3 separate regions of the Homo sapiens genome follow, and regions 1 and 3 are each linked to region 2. The links come from fine-mapping of genetic effects on gene expression. A gene starts in region 2. Each other region holds a variant in brackets. All regions are shown on one strand. Distances are from middle to middle.

Region 1 (2,762 bases), 41 kb before region 2:
GAAGGAGGCAGCATACTGGTTTCTGATTTGTGGGCTTGGGTGGCCAGTGGTTTCATGGGCTGAGATGGGTGGTTTGGGGGTCTGTACCAGTTCTGTGGGGGGCAGTGATGTTTGTGGACAGTTGAGCCCCTAGGACATCCCACTGGATATGGACAACTGCATGAACAGGTAGGACATAGGTCCGAGCTGGAGACAGATTTGGCAGCCATCAGCGTGCGCTGGTGGTGGAAACCCCAGGAAGCTAAAATCCCCCAGGGGAAGGGTGTACAAAAAAGGAAAAGCTGTAGAAGGATGTGCCCATGGACCCTTGGGATCTGCCCTGTATCCATACACTGCATATGTGGGCGACGCTCAGCAGGATGTCTGGATGGACTGTGCCAGGTCCCTGAATGGTACACTACAGCTCCTGAGAAGGTAGCCTCATGCCTGTCTTCTTTGATCCTAGAAAAACCAAACAGGACATCCAGATCATGAAAGATGGCAAATGCTGATCCCACAGGAGCACCTCAAGCCATGAAGTGTCAGCTGGAGAACAGTGGTGGGCATGGAGAGGATATGACATGAAATAAAAGATCCAGCCCAACTGAGTGAAGTGGTCAGTGTCTCTGGGGACACTGGTTGCAGAGGGGATAGGAGGTGGATCTTGCATTGTCGCCTCTACTCTGAATTTGATGTCCAGCTTCTCTCCGTCCCTCTGGTGCTCCTCAACCCTGTCACATGTCCCCTCAGAGGTCCCAGTTATCTTCTGCCTGCCTGAGAGGCCAGTCCCTGACCCCAGGATGCTGCCTAGTACTCCTGTCTGCCCCAGCCTGGACTATCATTCAGGCCAAGAACCTAGGTGAGGTCTGTATCCTCTGCCACTGCTGGGGTGCACGGCCCAGCCTCAGAAAGCCTCTGTGAAATCAGGAACAGTAGCTCATACCTATAATCCCAGCACTTTGGGAGGCTGAGGGTGGCAGGATTGCTTCAGGCCAGCCTGGGCAACATAGCAAGACTGTCTTTACAATTTTTTTTTTTTTTAATTAGCCAGGCTTGGTGGCATGCACCTGTAGTCCCAGCTATTCAGGAGGCTGAGGTGGGAGGGGATTGCTTGAGCCCAGGAAGTCGAGGCTGCAGTGACCCATGATCGCATCACTGCACTCCAGCCTGAGTGACAAAGTGAAACCCTGCCTCAAAAAAGAAAAAAAAAAGCTTTGTGAGAGTCATCCTGTGCCCCCCATGGCTTCCTCCTGGGTTGTGCCAGCACTCCAAGGCATGTACACACAGACACGTGGCACAGCAATGGCTGATATTCAGGCAGTGTACACAGTACAGCTGAACTGCTTGTTGTAACATTGAACTAGGTTTTTCACAATCGAAAACAGGTGATGCCCCAAGCCCTTTGA[G/C]TGCCCCCCCATACCCTAGCCACCCAGATTGTCCCCTGGAAACACCTGGGTCTCTCGGTTTCCACAGTCTGGGGTTAATTCCTGGCACTGTGGGATGATTTCGAGATGCTGCTCTGCTCTTTTGGTCAACATCTGCTCTGACTGGTTGTCAAATATTCTGACATTAGACACAGCCCCAGGCACGTCCTGCACACATGCACTCACACAATGTCCCACAGGGACACACAGTGTTCAGAATTGTCACCATAGACAGAGACTCCCTCCTGTGGTATATGTTGAATACCTCCTCTTTTGGCCAAAGCCCCTAGGCAGAGCCTCTTGATAATGGTGGCAGGAGAAAGGGGTATGGAGAGAGGCCTGGGCAGGTGAAAGCAGTTTCACACAGACTCTGATTCCTGCTGCAGAGTGGGCAGAAAGGGCAGGAAATGCTCTGTAGAAGACACATGTCTGAGAGAATGGGCACAGGAAGGCAGGAAGCTACTTTCTCTTGGACCACTGGAATGGGAACACTGAGCAGGAATTGTTGCTGATAGATTTGCAGGTGGCAGGCCTAGGAGGCCATCTATGAATAAGGCCTTCTACTGGGACTGATTCATACCTGTTTCATACCTGCATATGAATGATGTAGGATTAAGTTTGGCTGTGAGAGGCAGAAAACCCAAAATAACAGTGACTTATAGCCAGAACTTCATTTCTCCTACACATAGACCTATGTAGTATGACAACTCCATGCTCCTCTATTTTGTTACTCTGCCATCCGCATCACAGTTTCTACCTCAGGTCCAAGACAGCTACTCCAACCACAGCCATCACATCTGCATTCTAGGCCACAGAGAGAAAGGGCACGCCACTTGCCTCTGAAGACATTTCCCTTAAGACATACACACTCTGTATAAACCACATTAGCTAAAATGTAGTCTCATGGCCTTCTGAGCAGGGAGACTGAGAAATACAGTCTATCTGGTTGGCCATGCATTAAACTAAAAATTAGTTCACTTTTTGTAGGAGGAGAAAGTGGATATTGGTGACATCTAAAAGTTTCTGCCCTAAGTGGGACACCCCTCTTATACCCAAGTGGCATAGCCCAGCCAAGCATCTCATCAGTGACCCTTCCTTCCCAGGCTTCTACTCATCATCTGAGGAATCAGAGATTAAGCCTGAACAATGTGCCAGGCACCACCTGGAAGGAATACCTAATTTACCACTTACAGATGTGGACTCTGTGGCCCCCTCTCTGGGAACTACCCCAAAACCTAAGTGTTGGCCCCTAAAGACCTTATGTGTGGCATGAGACCCTGCTGCCCTGGCCATTGCTGATTAGCCAAAAGATTCTTCCCCAGGATCTTTCAAATTAGAAACAAGCAAACAGAGGCAGTT
Region 2 (2,762 bases):
GGCCTAGGGTCTTCTCACCCCCACCCCCTTGTCCTGGGTAGGCCCCTGCCTGCCCCTCTCTGCCTTTTCCTCGGGTGTCCCTCCTCGAGCCCCTGCGGCACTGGCTTGGGTGGCAGAGCCCACTTGTTTCAGGGACCCCAGGAGGTGGTGCCCCCTGGCTCCTGGGACTGTGTGTGGGTCTGGGGGGTGGGGGGGTGGGGAGAAGCGTCGGGCAGGGGGTGCAGGGGAGGAAACTCCTCACCAGGAAAGCCAAAGACAGGGTTGTGCCTTACCTCAGGAGCCACCCGTTCCCCCTTGCCCTGCCGTTCACCCTCCACCTTTCCCCCCGGGCGGCCTGCTGCTTTTTCCTTCTCTTCCTCCCCTGCCCTGCCCTGAGCTGCATGGTTCCCCTACCCTGGGAAGCCAGGAAGGAATCTGAATGGAGAATCACCAACCACCAAAGAAAAAAAGACTGCGGGGCCCTCCCCTGCCAACTCCCCTTCCCTGGCCGCCCACTCACCCACACCTCTTTCACGCAGGACAGGCTGCCCACCCTGTCCACGTGAAGTGCCAACGCCCTCCCCACCCTGGGCCGAGCCCCCACCCCTCCCTGGGCCCCCAAGTGAGATTGCACATTTAACTACTGTAAGGAGAGGAGCGGCGTTGGCAAATGTGAACCATGAGAATATCGGTGATACTGATGAGAATAAACGCCTTTGTAAAAAAAAAAAAAAAAAAAAAAGTCTGGAGCCAGGCGTGGTGGCTCGCCTGTAAGCCAAGCACTTTAGGAGGCCAAAGCGGCAGGATCGCTTGAGGCCAGGAGTTGGAGAGACTAGCCTGGGCAACATGGCGAAACCCGTCTCTACTAAAAATAGCTGCGCATGGTGGCTCCGCCTGTAGTTCCAGCTACCGGAAGGCTGAGGCGGGAGGATTAGAGACTGAAGCTATAGTGAGCCATGATCAGACCACTGCACTCAAGCCTGGGTAAGGCAGCAAGACCCTATATCAAAAAATAAAAAAAGGAAAACCACAATGATTACGCAAGTCGCCGCCCTCCCTCCTGCGATTGTTGCTATTTCCATCCAGCTACTAGTCTCCTCCTCCCGCCCGACACCTGGCGCGTCTATCTGACGTCACGAACGCGCCACACAGATTCGGGCTGCGCAACCTCTGTGGCCGTCTACACGGCGCGCAGATGCGAATATTCTCGCGGCGCCGGAAGTCCGGGGCACGTGACCTGGTGACAGTGCTGACTTGGCTGTACAGCTCGATCTAGGTTCTGCGGCACGGGATGGCGGAGGCGCCTCCTGTCTCAGGTATTGTCCCGGCCCGAGCGGGACTGGGCCCCTTTCAGGGAGCGGAAATTGGGTCAGTGACGAAGTTCTAGGGCCTCAGCCACTCATATCGCGAGAGTAGCACATGCTAGGGCGTAGGATAGTGGCTCGGAAGGGCCAAGCCCCGCGCATCGTGCGTACGAAGATCTGTGTCTTCTTGGACTAGATGGTGAAGCCCAGTAGCTGGGTTTCGGAGGAGAGAGGACTTGTCCCGGCGCTGCGAGTCGATGTGGGTGCCCTGCCTTCCCACAGGCTGTTTCTGGGGCAGCGGCGCACTGACCTTCGACAGGCGGGCGTCGGCCAGGTCACAGCCAGTGACGGTGGCGGGCTCTTGACGTGTAGGGTGTGGTGTGCTCATACCGCCTGGAGTGGTGGCGTGGGCGCGAGCCGAATTCCAGTAGTTTAGAGTCTCAGCCTGCTGCGAACCCCGTGTGACTCAGTCTCAGTCTCCTCATCTGTCAGTTGGGAGTAGATAAGTTAATTCCTGTGATGGCTCCCGCCCTGTACTGTACCTATTCTGTAATTGTTCACTCACTCCCCCTCCTGGAGTTGCCTCAGTGTGTAGAGACAGCCTCATTTGTTCGTTGATATAACATCCATTTCCTCAGGGTGTTCCATAGATCAGTGTTTTCCAAATGTGTTGGACAGCAACCAAAAGAAACATTTTGCATCGCGACCTTAAATATTGTACACTTACATAAATATAAAAGCGAACCAGAAGTTTCTGGAAGCAGTGAGGTTGGTTGGTTTGTTTTACAATCAGCAATATATTCTGTTTTCTGTTTCGTTTAAAAATATGTCACAGCCCACTGCCTTCATTTGATTTTATGGCCCACTCTGGAAAACAGGGCAGCAGTTTGCAGAATGGAGTTTGGAAACCATTGGTTTGAATCTCAGCTCTGTCCCTGACCAGCCGTTGGGGCACCAAGAAGACCATATATGTATTTGTATACTGGGTGGCAGGTAAAATGTATTTATTACTATGGTTCTTAGTTTAAAAAGTTAGGGCCGGGCGTGGTGGCTCACGCCTGTAATCCTAGCACTTTGGGAGGCCGAGGTGGACGGATCACGAGGTCAGGAGATCGAGACCATCCTGGCTAACACGGTGAAACCCCGTCTCTACTAAAAATACAAAAAATTAGCTGGGCATGGTGGCACGCGCCTGTAGTCCCAGCTACTCCGGAGGCTGAGGCAAGAGAATTGCTTGAACCCTGGAGGCGGAAGTTGCAGTGAGCCAAGATCGTGCCACTGCACTCCAGCCTGGGCGACAGAGTGTGACTTCGTCTCAAAAAAAAAAGTTGGAAAACACACTGCATTGGTGTACCCTAGTCTTGATGTGGATATTAAGTCTTCCTTGGGGTTGGAAAACTTTTTGGGCTGGGTATTTTGTTATTCTCCTCACCTAGTCCTTCACCAGATTCTCTAAACTGGATCTATTGATCGTCTCAT
Region 3 (2,762 bases), 44 kb after region 2:
TTTCTTTTTCCTTTTGAGACGGAGTCTCGCTCTGTTTCGCAGGCCAGAGTGCAGTGGCGCGATCTCGGCTCACTGCAACCTCCACCTCCCAGGTTCAAGTGATTCCCCTGCCTCAGCCTCCCAAGTAGCTGGGATTACAGGTGTCCACCACTACACCTGGCTGATTTTTGTATTTTTGGTAGAGACGGGGTTTCACTGTGTTGGCCAGGCTGGTCTCTAACTCCTGACCTCAAGTGATCCACCCGCCTCGGCCTCCCAAAGTGTTGGGATTACAGGCATGAGTCACCACACCGGCCTCGATTCCTGTTTTTATAACCGACACATACTGTTGTTGAAGCCATTTTAAAACCTTTTTGGAAAAGTGATGGAAGATAAGGATATGCAAAATAAAAGGTCTTACTGTAGTCAGAAAGAAAGCTGTATTGGTTAGGAAGCTTCTGGATGCAGGTAACAAAACCCAAGAAAAAGTGACTTTTACGATAAGGGTGTTTACTGCCACACCTGATAGGATATCTGGAGGCAGAACAAGTCCGAGATTGGTTAATTTTAGCTCAGTGATTTTGAAGACTTCAATTTGGCTTCTCTGTGGTTTTCTTGATTTTCTCCTCGTGGGTATGTTAGCTGCTGCAGCTTCACACATTGGGTCTCTGCCCAACAACATCTAAACAAAATCCATGAAGAGAGTGTTGTTGTTCTCTTCCTATGTAAGAGCAAGGAAAACAGTCCTGAAAGGTTCTCAGTACACTGTGTCCAATTCTTCTGCCTAAACCTGTAACTAGCAAAGTGAATGGAATTACCATGGTGGGTAAAGGTACACAACATCCACCCCTGGAACTGAGGAGCACACTGGCTCCCAGTTTCTGAACAAAATTAAGGCTGTCTTTGCCTGAAAGAGAAGAGTGGCCGTTTGGGAGGTACCCAGCAATATCTGCCTCAAAACCGTATTTAAACTTTTGGTTCAGTGTGCCATCTGTATCAAGGAAAAAAAGTTTGGTTATTAAAAACATAATTTGGGTCCAAGCCTGGTGGCTCATGCCTGTAATCCCAGCACTTTGGGAGGCCAAGGTGGGCGGATCACCTGAGGTCAGGAGTTCAAGGCCAGCCTAGCCAACATGGTGAAACCCCATCTCTACTAAAAATACAAAAATTAGCCAAGTAC[A/G]GTGGCGCACCCCTGTAATCCCAGCTACTCAGGAGGCTGAGGCAGGAGAATCACTTGAACTCAGGAGACAGAGGTTGCAGTGAACTGAGATCACACCATTGCTCTCCAGCCTGGGCGACAGAGTGAGACTCCGTATCAAAAAAGAAACAAGAAAAACATAATTTGGGCCAGATGCAGTGGCTCACATCTGTAATCCTTATGCTTTGGGAGGCCAGGGCTGGGGGATCACTTAAAGCCAGGAGTTCAAGACCAGCCTGGGCAACATAGTGAGGCACTGTCTTTGCAAAAGAATTTTTAAAGTTAGCCAGGCATAGTGGCATGTGCCCATAGTCCTAGATACTCGGGAGGCTGAGGCAGAGGATTGCTTGAGTCCAGGAGTTTGAGGTTGCAGTGAGCTGTGATTGTGCCATTGCACTCTATCCTGGTGACAGAGCGAGACCCTATCTCTAAAACAATAAAACAAAATAATAAAAACATAATTTGAAAAAATACAAAATTAATACACTTATGAAGTTTAAAAAAAAATATGAAGTGAAAGATGAAAATTTGCCCTCTAATAGTAGTTTGTTAGTTAGGGTTTCAGATCTTTTTCCCTATTCATACAGATGTATAAACATGCCAGCATAGTTTTGTTTTTCCCTAGATTTAGGCTTATACTAAAGATACTGTCTGCAGCTTATTTTCCCTCACTAATATCTCAAAGACGTATTTCCATGTCAGTATGCATAACTCTTGTTCTTGCAGAGTATTCCATATGTGGATCTGCCTTGTCATAGTTCACCATGACCCTTTTGGTGGTCATTTAGGTTGTCTCCAGTTTTTCCCCATTATTAATAAGCAGGAACCGTCCTGTCCCACTTTTTATAACTTTATGATGCAAAATTTCAACCATACGTGAAAGTGGAGAAACTGGTATAATGAATCCCCACGTACCTATGACCTGTCATCATCAGTTGTCAACATTTTACCTCTCGTTTTCATCCATCCCTCCTTCCCTACATTTTATTTATGCTGAAGTACTTTGAAAACAAATCTCAAATATCATTTCACCCATAAATACTTCAGTGGTTAGCCCACTTTTTTTTTAGTTGAAATTCACATAACATAATTAACCATTTTAAATGTACAGTTCAGTGGCACTTAGTTCTTTCACAATCTAGTTCCAAAATATTTTCTCTGTCTTACATTTTTTCTTCTTCTCTATTTTATCTTTCTTTTTCTTTTTTTTTTTTTTTTTTTTGAGACGGAGTTTTGCTCTTGTTGCCCAGGCTGGAGTGCAGTGGCGCAATCTCAGCTTACTGCAACCTCCACCTCCTGGGCTCAAGCAATTCTCCTGTCTTAGCCTCCTGAGTAGCTGGAATTACAGGCACCCACCACCATGCCTGGCTAATTTTTTTGTATTTTTAGTAGAGACGGGGTTTCACCATGTTGCCCAGGCTGGTCTCGAACTCCTGGCCTCATGTAATCCGCCTGCCTCAGCCTCCCAAAGTGCTGGGATTACAGTCATGAGCCACCGTGCCCAACCTTTTTTTAAATTTTATTTTAAAAATATGTTGAGACAGGGTCTCACTTTGTTGACCAGGCTGGTCTTGAATGCTTGGTC

Evidence for each region. PIP is the estimated chance that this variant, and not a neighbour inherited with it, causes the effect.
Region 1: its variant is fine-mapped to the expression of NFX1 in whole blood (TOPMed, PIP above 0.99).
Region 3: its variant is fine-mapped to the expression of NFX1 in whole blood (TOPMed, PIP above 0.99).

What each region holds. Positions count from the first base shown.
Region 1 is chr9:33,247,981-33,250,742 of GRCh38, forward strand. SPINK4 (serine peptidase inhibitor Kazal type 4) reads left to right here. Exons shown (of 4, transcript NM_014471.3): 4 at 446-587. The coding sequence ends at 491. Among named protein-coding and RNA genes, the nearest start is that of SPINK4, 9.2 kb to the left of the region's middle. RefSeq lists an enhancer at 933-1,042. The variant G/C (reference allele first, on the strand shown) is at 1,386.
Region 2 is chr9:33,289,303-33,292,064 of GRCh38, forward strand. It overlaps NFX1 (nuclear transcription factor, X-box binding 1), which reads left to right and starts at 1,214. Exons shown (of 24, transcript NM_002504.6): 1 at 1,214-1,295. The coding sequence starts at 1,271. It also overlaps the pseudogene LOC100862682. RefSeq lists enhancers at 1-104, 810-1,229, 1,240-1,289, 1,259-2,458, 1,440-1,489.
Region 3 is chr9:33,332,849-33,335,610 of GRCh38, forward strand. All of the region lies in intron 11 of NFX1 (nuclear transcription factor, X-box binding 1), which reads left to right. Among named protein-coding and RNA genes, the nearest start is that of NFX1, 44 kb to the left of the region's middle. The variant A/G (reference allele first, on the strand shown) is at 1,160.